Homo sapiens: one gene and its partner. The protein of the gene in region 2 interacts with the protein of the main gene of each other region in a pairwise test. Each region holds a gene or a part of one and is shown on either strand. Other genes may lie near its edges.

The links.
Region 1: the proteins of ARL13B (region 2) and FUNDC2 interact in binary tests that used the Homo sapiens proteins (3 or more experiments, as listed by UniProt).

What each region holds. Positions count from the first base shown.
Region 1 is NC_000023.11:155,025,015-155,028,766, reverse strand, and holds the start of FUNDC2 (FUN14 domain-containing protein 2), read right to left. Parts: upstream 1,924-3,752; 5' UTR 1,829-1,923; coding exon 1,696-1,828; intron 1-1,695. UniProt on the Homo sapiens protein: Binds directly and specifically 1,2-Diacyl-sn-glycero-3-phospho-(1'-myo-inositol-3',4',5'-bisphosphate) (PIP3) leading to the recruitment of PIP3 to mitochondria and may play a role in the regulation of the platelet activation via AKT/GSK3B/cGMP signaling pathways.
Region 2 is NC_000003.12:94,039,104-94,042,855, reverse strand, and holds part of ARL13B (ADP-ribosylation factor-like protein 13B), read right to left. Parts: intron 2,977-3,752; coding exon 2,868-2,976; intron 1-2,867. UniProt on the Homo sapiens protein: Cilium-specific protein required to control the microtubule-based, ciliary axoneme structure. May act by maintaining the association between IFT subcomplexes A and B. Binds GTP but is not able to hydrolyze fit; the GTPase activity remains unclear.

The DNA.
Region 1 (3,752 bases), on a different chromosome or scaffold from region 2:
AGAGAATCCAGAATCCAGAAATAGATCCACACATATAGTCATTTGATTTTTAATAACTTAGCACCAAGGTAACTCAATGAAGGAAACAACAAATGATGTTAGAACTACTATATATTTGTGTTTCAAAAAAAACTACTCTCAACCTCTACCTTAAACCATACACAAAATATAATTCAAGAATTCATTCAGGATACATCACAGACGCCCATTTAGCAGAACAAAATATGGATGTCTGAGTACCTGGGTACTCCATGGCCTCTCAAGTAGTTAAATAATTTATTTTTCTAATGTAACAACAAAACATTACAGTTTTAACGTAATTTGACCAAGCCCCTTAGATCAACAGGTGGCTCCACTGGGGCTGCAGTGAGCTATGATTGTGCCACTGTGCTGTAGCCTGAATGACAGATCTAGTCCCTAAAAAAGGGAGTAGGGGGGAAGGTAGATTAAATGCGAGATATTTGGTCAGTCATTGGTCAAACACTGCTAAGCACTATGACAGACAAAAGTCAGCCAATAGCTTCGTTTATGAGCCCACAAAATCAATGATCACAGTTATTATGTGATCATCACTGTGATAACAATTGAAACTCATCTTAACCTCAAAATTTCTCACAACAATTTCCTAGGTGCAAATACCTGATCAACCTATAAGAGCAGTCTGCTCTTATAAAAGTCTATAAGAGCAGTCTGCTCTTATAAAAGTCTATAAGAGCAGTCTGCTCTGCAGGAAAATACATAATTATCACATTGCACATTCCACCTTCCCAGAGTCATCTAAAATTTAGCGGCGTGCTGGTGAAATGCTTAACAGTCGGCTTTAGGCAAGGGCTGATTTGTAGTGTAGCCAATTTCCATTGCGTATTCATTCATCGTGAGCATGACATTACTGAATTGTGAAACTACTGAACCCAGAGATGGGAAGAGACGCACAGTAGAGCACCATAGTATAGTATCTCCTCCACAAAGATACAATAGATGTATAAATAACCTCAAAAGTAAAGTAACAATAAAACATGGTAAATAATAAAAGTGATGAGTTTTTAGTATTTTCACTGCCTTTGTTTTTAACATAATTTACGTAATTTTACGTTTATATGATTGAGTTTTCAATGATGGCTCTGTTTAGCAATGGGATCCCGTGAGTCAGTACTAAATTAAATACAACCTAAACATTCAAAATAGGGTAAGACGCATAACTTAAAGACGTGCTCCACTGCGAATTACACGGAATCTTTGACTATGCCGACTAAACAGAAGGCTATTCCTAAGTACCATCCCATATGTGCTAGTTTTTCAAAACCAACAATAAAGCAGTTGGGGAGGTGCCTTGTACACAGAATGACGCCACGAGGCATTTGAGATGAACGTCCAAAGGGACAAAGAAGCCAGACCGCTTCCGAGAACGGGGACAGAATGTCTTCGGGCTTCTGCGCCGGGGGCGGCGCCGGAAGGCTGGGTGAGCTCCACTGGAGACGACACCCCAGGGTGGTTAGGCCCCAGACACGCGCGTGACCTTGGCCGGACCCTGGGAGCGGCTGAGCCAGGGGCGATCCCCGAGCGCCCTCCCCGTCCCCGCGCCGCTTGGACTCCCCGGGGAGCTCGGTCGCGACTGGCGGGCGCGGAGCCCTTCCCCTTCCGGAGCCCAGGAAGGCGGCTCCCCGCGGCGCCGGCCGCGCGCGCGCCCGCCCTTACCTTGACTGGACGCGGCCATTTCGGTGAGCTTGTCTCGCGAGGACACACGTAGAGGATCTGCGCGGTAGGCCGCGGAGTGGCGCGCAGTTGTCGCCACCACTTGGCTTCCGGCACGTGGGGCAGATGTTTCCATTCCCACGGCGGCAGCGGAAGAGGGAGGGCCGGGCGCGCCGCGGCTGCTTGCAGTCTCCGCAAGCGGCTACATCACAGAGCTCAGCGTGCGGTGTCACAGGCCCCGCGGTCCCGCCCAACAGATGCACCGAGATGCGCGTGCGCAGAAAGCGTCCCGGGGGTGAGGCTCCCTCCCTCGCTCTCCCTCTACTCCCGCCCCACTCTCCCCCACTTTCCCCCCTCCACCCACCGCGGCCGTCGGGGCTCGCTCGCTCAGTACCTGGAGGCGAGTTCCTGACGCGACTGCGACTCAATCCTCGCCTGGTGAAGAATATTTTACCTATGACTCACTGAAAATAAAGACGGCTGAGTGACCGTGTTTGTTCATGTAAACATTGAACAAATATTTATCGGCTTCTGCGATGTGTCCTACTCTTTTAGTGGAGGAAGACACATTTTATTTATGTATTTAATTTTTCTTTTGAATTTTACATGCGAGTTATACTTAATAAAACTCACTTCAAAATATACCTTCAACAGAAAATCCAGCAACAGTTTCTATTATGTTAGTTAAAACAGCCAGTCTTTTCCTTTACTTTTAAAAATTATTCATAAATGTAATTAGTGAATGATAATAAACATTGACATCTGATCCACTGCTTTAGGAGTGACACAAATGAAGTTAACTCAGGCTATTTTCTTTATAATCATTGTGCTATTGTTTTCTTTTTCTTTTCAATTATACTGCTTAATATAGGATTTTGTGGCACCATAGGAGTTGAGTAAAAATAAAAGGAATAAAAATATACCTTATCTGGCCGGGCGCGGTGGCTCACGCCTGTAATTTCAGCAGTTTCGGAGGCCGAGGCGGGCGGATCACGCGGTCAGGAGATCGAGGCCATCCTGGCTAACATGGTGAAACCCCGTCTCTACTAAAAATACAAAAAATTAGCCGGGCATGGTGGCGGCCGCCTGTAGTCCCAGCTACTCGGGAGGCTGAGGCAGGAGAATGGCGTGAACCCGGGAGGCGGAGCTTGCAGTGAGCCGAGATCGCGACACTGCACTCCAGCCTGGGCGACAGAGTGAGACTGCGTCTCCAAAAAAAAAAGAAAAAATACGTTATCTATGAAGATTTCCAATTTGATTTCTATTTATCACAAATGGCCACAGTACTCCTTTGTACTTTACCACATACCATATTGTATTCAGTAATTATTTGTGAATATGTAATTGATAATATTGTAGGTTTTAGAGAATCCTTGAAAACATGAAAATTTGGTAATGGGGTCTATTTTGATTATTTATTTATTTATTTATTTATTTTATTTTTGAGACAGAGTCTCGCTCTTGTTGCCCAGGCTGGAGTGCAGTGGCGCGATCTCGGCTCACTGCAAGCTCCACCTCCCGGGTTCAAGCGATTCTCCTGCCTCAGCCTCCCAAGTAGCTGGGACTACAGGCACGTGCCACCATGCCCGGCTAATTTTTTGTATTTTTAGTAGAGGAGGAGTTTCATCTTGTTAGCTAGGATGGTCTAGATCTCCTGACCTCGTGATCTGCCCGCCTCAGCCTCCCAAAGTGCTGGGATTACAGGTGTGAGCCACCGTGCCCGGCCATATTTTGATTTAAAATTTAGCAATAATAGATAAAATTTTCAATCAACTAAGCCCTTGGGCCAGGGAATGCTATTCCTTAAAAAGTGCTTCTATCAATATAGCCTCTGACTCATTACTTTGTTAATTTTTAAATTGTATTTCATTCCTGATTAACATTCCCACCCAGATTATTAATTATACAATCTGTTAACTGTAGAACCTCAAACATGTTGGATTGTACTGTATTTGTCTGGAAGACACATTTTTAAAACATTGTAATCGCTATAAGAGAAGCACTGGGAAAGAAAGGAGCTTCTATGCCTGCAGTGCCTGAGGAGCCCTTTAACAGTGTGC
Region 2 (3,752 bases):
CTAAATGTCAAACATTCAGTAAAACAGAAAGTATAACAAAAGCAAACAAATATTACCAGTAATTCCACAATCTAGAGATGACTACTATTCATCTGTATTATTCCGTATATAATCTGTTCAGTATATAATCACTAAGAGATGATTTTCTCTGCCAACCCCCACACATACATACCTATATCATGTACAGACATACATCACCCAGAAACATACATAAATATATGTATCTATATATACTTATGTATTTGTTGTTTAAACAAAAAAGAATTGAAGTTTTTATTGAAGAATATACATTTCTTTCCATGCCAATGAATATATAAAGTGCTCAGAACAGTGCCTTACACATAGTAAATGCTACATAAATGTTAGATACAATTATTTTCATCAATTATTATTTTGAATGTTTATAGCATACCAATTCTGTATCAATGAACAAAGTATTTCCAATTTTTCACTATTTTAAAAAACAGAATCATCCTAATAGCTTTTTTTTAATTTTTTTAGATTAAATTGCTAACAGTAGAACTGTTGAGTCAGTGGGTAGGCAAATTTAAAAATGTCACATATAGTCACAAACTTCCCTTCAGAAAAAATGAATCAATGAACCTCAGGCAAAGGGTTGGGAGAGTGATTTTTTTCTACATCATATTCAATACCACATATCATGATTGACCTTTTACATCTCTGCCGTATTAATACATATTTTTATTTAACTTAGTGTTATTTTCATTTGAGTTTAAGTTAAAATTTTTATTGCCAGCAAAAATGAACTATTATTGAATTATTTTATTTTATTTTTTTTGAGATGGAGTCTCGCTCTGTCGCCCAGGCTGGAGTGCAGTGGCACGATCTCGGCTCACTGCAACCTCCACCCCTCCAGGTTTAAGCAATTCTCTGCCTCAGCCTCCGGAGTAGCTGGGATTATAGGTTCGTGCCACGCCTGGCTAATTTTTTGTATTTTTAGCAGAGACAGGGTTTCACCGTCTTGGCCAGGCTGGTCTTGAACTCCAACCACCTCGGCCTCCCAAAGTGCTGGGATTACAGGCGTGAGCCACCGTGCCTGGCCACTTATTGACATTTTTAATTTTTTTTTAGGAAACTGCCTTTGGTAACCCAATGCCCACTTTTCTATTAGATTCTCATTATTTTCATAGTAATTTGTAAGAGTTCTTTTGTGCATACGTGTCACTAGGACTAGTCACAGAGTCACATAAGACTATGTGTTCTATTTCTCACTAGAGTTTACTTCTTTTCATTTTTGCTTTTTAACTTTGTAGAATAGCTCTTTAAAAATTGGGTAGTATAAGATCTATCCACCTTTTTCCTTTATGATTTGTGGCTTGCTTGTCCTGCTTTGAAATTTTTTCCTCCTCCAAGCACATATAAAGACTTATCTATATTATCTACTAGTAACTTGAAGACTTTCACTTTTTAAAACGTATTTAAGTTTTTGATACTTTTGGAATTTAACTGGGTATACAATATTCAATAATTTTCCTTTTTCTAAATGGTTATTAAGTTGTTCTATTATTTTTTTCTCTCAGATTTGAAATGTTATCTTTATCTTGTACTAAAATGCTCATACATAAATAGGTTTATTAATATTCGTTCCATTGATCTGTCTGTCTCTTCTGGAACCAATACCTTCCAATATCTCACCATTTTAATTATCTGCAGTAATAATAAAAAAAAATGTTAGGTGCTTCTGTACCAAGAAACATGCTAAAAAAGTTTTGTGGGGAAAAAAAGAGAAAATCTGTATGGTTAAAAAAAAAAAACTATAGCTAATTTGCTTTTATTTCTTTACTGGCCATCTTCTTGAAATTGTAGTTTCAAAGCGTTAAGTGTACTTTCCCCATGCCACTTATTAATTTGGGAACTTTCTATATGTGATATATACTATGTCGTACACCACTATTATTCACTTCTATACATTGTGGGAAATACGGTGCTGGGAGAAGCACTAGAGCCTTCTACACAATTTATACCCATGGTACTATAAAATAATTAGCCATTATTTATAAAGCAAGCCTTATTATACACAGAGAATAATTGTTGTTTCAAAGTAAAAAGTACAACTTGACCTCTTCTCTCTCAATATTTTTAAAAGAACATAAAACAAAACTTGACAAATATAATATCTGATAGAATGGAGACAAAAAAAAAAAAAAACCTTCCAGGTAGGACCAGGAAGTCAGCCTAAGGTTTAGGAAGCAATGCCTCAGAAGAGGCATCGCTGCTGCCAGCCATAAAAGCAGAGCCAATGCAAACTCTGGACATGAGCAGAAAATGAAAACAAAAACACAGACGCGCACACACACAACCCCTTAACGTCTTCATAATTAAAATCTACAAATTAATGTTGGTAAAATTTCTGATTTAAAATGGAAATAAATGATATTCAGATATAGGAGAATTTATTGCAGTTTCAAACATCCTTAAGTATCCTGGAAAAATAGAAAATTGTTTATGTACCCTAATGCATTCTAAGTAAATATTGCAGATGGACAGTAACAGCAATACAGAAACACAGAAAATGTAAATAAGAGTAAATATGTTATTACTATATGAAATAAATGACAGAATAGATTTGTCAACACAGCAACTATAATAATTGCTACAGTCAAATTTATTTATTGTCATTTAATTCTGAAGTCATATTCCCCCTTTCACACTAGATTCAAAGGTAATTTAAGAGTAAGAAAAAGCAGTAAACCTTTAATCAGTCTCTCATGTTTAATTTCTTATAGAAATAATCTCTCAGAAGAAACACATCTGTTTCCCTGCCTCCTTTCCCAACTTTCCACCTTCTTTTCCAAGTTCCAACTTATAACTTAAGATACAAAAATTACATTTGCCATCATTCATACCTCAATGATTACAGATGCTATTGGCTGGAAAGGATTCGTTGGTTCTGGGTCCAACTCAGCCAGACCACTGGTTCCATCGAGTTCAGCCTGCTCCTGTTCATTTTGTTTTCTATCGTTTGAGGAAAAATAATTGAAATTTCCTTTGAGAAAGTGCTGAACCATGTTAAAGAAAACTGCAATAGGTATAAGGCTATTACATGTAGTAATTTAAACATCTGGACATGGTTTTGAATTACTGAGAGCATTTCAAAAATCCTTATGCAGGTAAGAGGCTGCTTCCTCCCATGTAAAGACTAATCATTTCAATTAAAAAAATGCTGATAAAAATGACATTTCCTATGAGTGACTTCTTAATATCAACAGTGCAATTATTCTTCCATGTGCCAAGGGTATTACTGATCAACTTATTAATTACCCTCCAAAATCAATGCTGTCCTCTTTACTGGTGTTAACAAATAGTAATTATTCTTTTTTTTTTTTTTTTTTTTTGAGTCGGAGTCTTGCATTCTCGCCCAGGCTGGAGTGCATTGGCACCATCTCGGCTCACTGCAAGCTCCACCTCCCGGGTTCACGCCATTCTCCTGCCTCAGCCTCCTGAGTAGCTGGGACTACAGGCGCCCGCCACCAGGCCTGGCTAATTTTTTGTATTTTTAGTAGAGACGGGGTTTCACCCTATTAGCCAGGATGGTCTCGATCTCCTGACCCTGTGATCTGCCTGCCTCTGCCTCCCAAAGTGCTGGGATTACAGGTGTGAGCCACCGCGCCCAGCCAAATAGTAATTATTCTTATTAATTCTTTTCTTAAGGGCTAAGTCTTCTCTTACAAAACTAGGAAAACATTCCTTCAACTCAACCTATGTTTTTATTTCTGCATAAACATGTTTCT